Linked DNA regions of Homo sapiens: region 2 is linked to region 1. The links come from fine-mapping of genetic effects on gene expression. A gene starts in region 1. The other region holds a variant in brackets. All regions are shown on one strand. Distances are between the middles of the regions.

Region 1 (2,913 bases):
CCGCCACAGTCACACTAGTCCTCTAATCATGGGTGGACCCAGCGCAAAAAGCCTCACACAGAATGTCACAAGATCCCTGTGCACGTGGCTGCGCTCCTGCAAACGTGGCAATCACACGGGTCCAGGTGGCCTCTCACATTTAAGCCACATCACGTATCACCCCCACAGGGGCCACTGCGGGAGTGGCGGCGCTCGCCGCATGAGCCCCACGCGGGCATATAGAACAGCCATTCTCAAAAAGCCTCAAAACCGTTTCACCACCCAGCGCGGTGGCTCACACCTGTCATCCAATACTTTGGCCACTGAGACGGGAGGATCGCTTGAGCCCAGGAGTTCGAGACCACCAGCCTGGGCAACATAGCGAGACCCTGTCTTTACCAAAAAAATAAAAATAAAATAAATCGTTTTGGCCTGACCCGGTGGCTCACGCCTGCTATCCCAGCACTTTGGGAGGTGGATGCGGGAGGAGCTGAGGAGGTGGAGACTGCAGTGAGCTAGGATCGCGCCACCGCAGTCAGCCTGGGCAACAGGGCATGAAGACCCTGTCTCAAAAAGAGGCCGGGCGCGGTGGCTCACGCCTGTAATCCAGCACTTTGGGAGGCCGAGGCGGGCGAATCACGAGGTCAGGAGATCGAGACCATCCTGGCTAACACGATGAAACCCCGTCTCTACTAAAAATACAAAAAATTAGCCGGGCGAGGTGGCGGGCGCCTGTAGTCCCAGCTACTCGGGAGGCTGAGGCAGGAGAATGGCGTGAACCCGGGAGGCGGAGCTTGCAGTGAGCCGAGATTGCGCCACTGCACTCCAGCCTGGGCGACAGCGAGACTCCGTCTCAAAAAAAAAAAAAGAAAAAAAAAAAGTTGAGTGAAATATATGACGTACAGTTTTTTGTTGTTGTTGTTGTTTGTTTTTTCTTGCCCGGGCAACAGGGCAAGAAGACTCTGTCTCTAAATAAATAAATAAATGGAGTCAAATATATGACATACAGTTTTGTTTGTTTGTTTGAGAAGGAGTTGCTCTGTCGCCCAGGCTGGAGTGCAATGGCGCGACCTCGGCTCACCGCAACCTCTGCCTCCCGGGTTCAAGCGATTCTCCTGCCTCAGCCTCCCGAGTAGCTGGGATTACAGGCATGCGCCATCACGCCCGGCTAATTTTGTATTTTTAGTAGAGACGGGGTTTCTCCATGTTGGTCAGGCTGGTCTCGGTGATCCGCCCGCCTTGGCGTGAGCCACCGCGCCCGGCCAAAAAAAAAATTTTTTTTTAAATCGTTTCACATACAAATCTCACGCGCTACACCCTCACCGTCAGTTCATATCCACCTTCTCCTCCGGAGTCACCTTCGGACACGCGCACAACAAAACACCTTTCTCACCACAACTCCACAAAGGGAAGCCGGGTTAGTCCGCGCCCGCCGAAAATTATCTTCAGCCACAGCCCGCGGAGGCCGCCTTGAGGGGTTCGGGGCAGCCACTGTGCCTATTCCGAAATCCGTCCTCAGCGGAACCCGAAGTCCAGAATCCGAAAACGAACATTAACAGGTTGGCGTCACTCCAGCCTCGGGTGAAACTGCGCAAGTGCATCCCGGAGCCCGGCGGAACACACCCGCTCCACCCCAGGCGCTCTCCCCTCGGACTGCATTTCCCAGAGGACACTGCTGTCCACAGCTACTTCCGGTAGGAGCCTCGCAGGAATGGTCTCCGGGTAGAGGCAGGTAAGGATGTCCCGGGCCGGTGGAGAAGGAAGAGCTGGGCGTGTGGCTTCGCTTGGAATCCGAATCAGAGCTTGGACCAGAGCCTTCCCTGAGAATGCTGAAGGTAAGAAATCCTGGCTCACCAGTGCCGCGGAAGGGAATGTCTATAGTTTTAGGCCTCTGAGTGCGGGATCAGCCCTTAGGTGGGTGTGTTTTGAATGCGTGAGGAAGTAGGGTTTCTCTTTGGGCTGTGTGTTACTGTTGGGACAGCGACCTGGTGCGTGGGTGTGCTTTAGTGACAGTGTGATTGTGTGCCTGATCATTTGTGTAAATGGGGTTTGTAGGTGACTGTGACCATGATTGTGAATGGCTATTTGTGTAAATCTCATTTATTTACGTGAAAGAAAAAGCACATTTACAGGCCGGGAGCGGTGGCTCACCCCTGTAATCCCAGCATTTTGGGAGCCCGAAGCGGGTGGATGCCCTGATGTCGGGAGTTCGATACCAGCCTGGCCAACGTGGAGAAACCCCACCTCTACTAAAAATACAAAATTAGCCGGGTATGGTGGTGCATGTCTGTAATTCCAGCTCCTTGGGAGGCTGAGGCAGGAGAATCGCTTGAACCCGGGAGGCGGAGGTTGCTGTGAGCCGAGATCGCGCCATTGCACTCCAACCTGGGCAACAAGAGTGAAACGAAACTGTCTCAAAAAAAAAAAAACAAAAAAACATTCACGTTATCCTCAGGCTCACACGATCAGGCAGAGAGCTTCCACTCCTCTCAGTCAACTCTGGTCTCTCACACACAGACACACGCACATTCACCTCACCCCGCTCCTGTGCACACATCTAAGGCTCAGGACGCCCCACTCCAGAGATCTGTCATTCATCCATCTCTCATCCTTTCCTGACTACTTGAGGAGTTAGCTGTAGATTTACACACACAACACAAGCGAAAATCACATTGCTACCCCGCATTTATCATTACAGCCTCAGAAAAACACCACATATGTAGTATGCTTATGTACCTATGTGTTTGATTTTTTTTTTCTGAGATTTGGCCACAATACACATTGTTCTGCAACTTCCTTTTTTTTTTTTTTTTTTTGAGACGAAGTTTCTCTCTTTCACCGTGGCTGGAGTGCGGTGGCGCGATCTCGGCTCACTGCAACCTCCGCCTTCGGGTTTTAAGCAGTTCTCCTGCCTCAGCCTCACGAGTAGCTGGG
Region 2 (2,913 bases), 94 kb before region 1:
CTTTCAATTGTCTGGGTGACTTTTCACCTGTTGCCTAGGGAATTGTTTTGTGTTTTGTAGATTAATAGATGGGCAGCTCTTTGGGGTCACTCCATCTTCTCCATGCTTCAGAACTCTACACCTTCCTCTAGTCCTTCATGAGGACTAAGGGACTAACTTTGAATTCAGGAACAGCAGGAGTATGTCTCACTTCTTTTCTTTTTTTTTTTTTTTTTGAGACAAAGTCTCACTCTGTCGCCCAGGCTGGAGTGCAATGTCATGATCTCGGTTCACTCCAACCTCCGTCTCTCGGGTTCAAGCGACTCTCCTGCCTCAGCCTTCTGAGTAGCTGGGATTACAGGCACCCACCACCATGCCCAGCCAATTTTTGTATTTTTAGTAGAGACAGGGTTTCACCATGTTGGTCAGGCTGGTCTTGAACTCCTGACCTCAAGCAATCCACCTGTTTTGGTCTCCCAAAGTGCTGGGATTATAGGAGTGAGCCACCATGCCTGGCTATCTTACTTCTTTTCTTATAAACAGGTCTCTCTATCCCAAAGCCTGATGTGATTTCCTTACTGGAGCAAGGGAAAGAGCCCTGGATGGTTTCAAGGGACGTGCTGGGAGGATGGTGCCGAGGTGAGTAAGGACTGAGCACATGGGGAAGACACTGCTGTTTAGAAGCCAGCCTGTCAGGGAGGCAGCACCGTACAGGTATTGGTTGAGGAGTCTCTTCTTCAAGGTCCCATGTAAGGGTGGTGGCCTAAGACACATGAAGAGAAGTCACGATACACCCCCACACACACTTTTTAAAATTTTATTATTTATTTATTTATTTATTTTGAGATGGAGTCTCGCTCTGTCGCCCAGGCTGGAGTGCAGTGGCATGATCTCGGCTCATTGCAACCTCCGTCCCCAGGTTGAAGCGACTCTCCTGCCTCAGCCTTTGAAGGAACTGGCATTATAGGCATCCACCACCATGCCCAGCTAATTTTTGTATTTTCAGTAGAGACGGGGTTTTACCATGTGGGCTAGGCTGGCCTCGAACTCCTGACCTCAAGTGATCCACCTGCCTCGGCCTCTGAAAGTGCTGGGATTACAGGTGTGAGCCACTGCGCCTGGCCAAGAATCCCCTTTTACTTCCACCTCTTCAGTCTGTGCTACCCTCTTGTCATAATTTCTTCCCATTTCAAAGAATAAAGTTCCCTTCTTCGGGAGCCATCCTGTTTCCTCTGTCTTCAAGCTACTTCTTTCCCTTTGAAATTTAAACCTGTGTTCTTGCTTTAAAAA[A/T]TTTTTTTTTCAAAATATATTTATTTTTCATACTGATCCTTAACTTTTTTTGTGTGTTGTCTTGTCTAGTTTTCCTTTGATGCAGACATTTCATGCATCAATGGATATTCATTCACTTTATTTTTTTGAAACAGAGTCTTACTCTGTCACCCAGGCTGGAGTGCAGTGGTGCAATATTGGCTCACTGCAACCTCCACTTCCCGGGTTCAAGTAATTCTCCTGCCTCAGCCTCTTGAGTAGCTGGGACTACAGGCATGTACCACCACAACTGGCTACTTTTTGTATTTTCAGTAGAGACAGGGTTTCACCATGTTGGCCAGGCTGGTCCTGAACTCCTGACCTCAGGTGATCCACCTGCCTCGGTCTCCCAAAGTGCCAGGATTACAGGTGTGAGCCACCACGTCTGACCTCATTCACTTTTAGTCAAAATTTATTGACTTAAAAAAAAAATCATAAAGCCTTCTTTTCTTGGTGGGTGACAGTTATGGAAGATATAAGCTATCAGAATTACAGTCTAATAAAGGGTTTATTTATTTATTTATTTTGAGACAATATCTCTTTGTGTTGCCCAGGCTGGAGTGCAGTGGAGTGATCTCGGCTCACTGCATCCCCTGCATCCTGAATTCAAGCAATTCTCGTGCCACAGCCTCCGGAGTAGCTAAGATTACAGGCACGCGCCACCACACCTGGCTAATTTTTTGTATTTTTAGTAGAGACAGGGTTTTGCCACATAGCCTAGGCTGGTCTTGAACTCCTGAGCTGAGGCAATCTGCCCACCTCGGCCTCCCAAAGTGCTAGGATTACCGGCGTGAGCCACCACACCCAGCCTAATAAAGGGTCTAAATCATTGTATAAATCACTTTCTAAAAAGTAGACTCAACCAGGAGATTTCTAATATGGTGCTTAGAAGAAAGAACTGTAGATATAAATGTGAAGGAATAGGATATGCCTGCTTTTAGGAGGAAAAGGTACACTGAAATGATTGTGTATAAAAGAGGACAATAAGTTAAATATAGAAGACTTAAGTGTCAAGGAAAAGGAGTGATCCATTTTCAATAAGTTGGTGACAATGTTAACATGGACAAAAATTGGGCTGTAAGTAGCATAGACTGAGGGATTTTTCTTTTGAAGTAGAAAAGATAAGGCATTTTGTTTTTCAAAATGTGCTTTTAAGTAATGCAAACTATCCATTTTAAAAAGCGTTTTAATTGTAGGATATAGATGACTATTTCCCTTTATCCATAGAACATTACAAAAAAATTTTTTTTTAATTATTAACTTGATTACGGAGGTCTTTGAACATACACAAAAGTAGAAAGGATGGTGTAATGGACATCCCCCAAATCCATTTCCTAGCTGCAGTAGTTATCAATGAGTTTCCATGTTTCCAATCTTACTTGATCTATGCCTGTTGACCTCTGCACCTTCCCTTAACTAAAGCAAGTCCTGGATATCATGAGTTCAATAATATTAAATGTATAGGTAGCTTTTCAGTGTTGCTTCTTCTTTTTTTGTTTTTGTGACAGGGTCTCTCTGTTGCCCATGCTGGAGTACGGTGGCACAATCACAGCTCACTGCAGCCTTGACCTCCAGGACTCAAGTGATCCTCCCACCTCTGCCTCCTGAGTAGCTCAGACTACAAGC

The links.
Region 2: its variant is fine-mapped to the expression of ZNF461 in whole blood (TOPMed, PIP above 0.99).

The regions. Positions count from the first base shown.
Region 1 is chr19:36,665,591-36,668,503 of GRCh38, reverse strand. It overlaps ZNF461 (zinc finger protein 461), which reads left to right and starts at 1,667. Exons shown (of 6, transcript NM_153257.5): 1 at 1,667-1,814. It also overlaps a transcript of ZNF567 not described here. RefSeq lists an enhancer at 1,361-1,490.
Region 2 is chr19:36,759,348-36,762,260 of GRCh38, reverse strand. It overlaps ZNF850 (zinc finger protein 850), which reads left to right. Exons shown (of 5, transcript NM_001193552.2): 4 at 523-618. Among named protein-coding and RNA genes, the nearest start is that of ZNF850, 12 kb to the left of the region's middle. The variant A/T (reference allele first, on the strand shown) is at 1,270.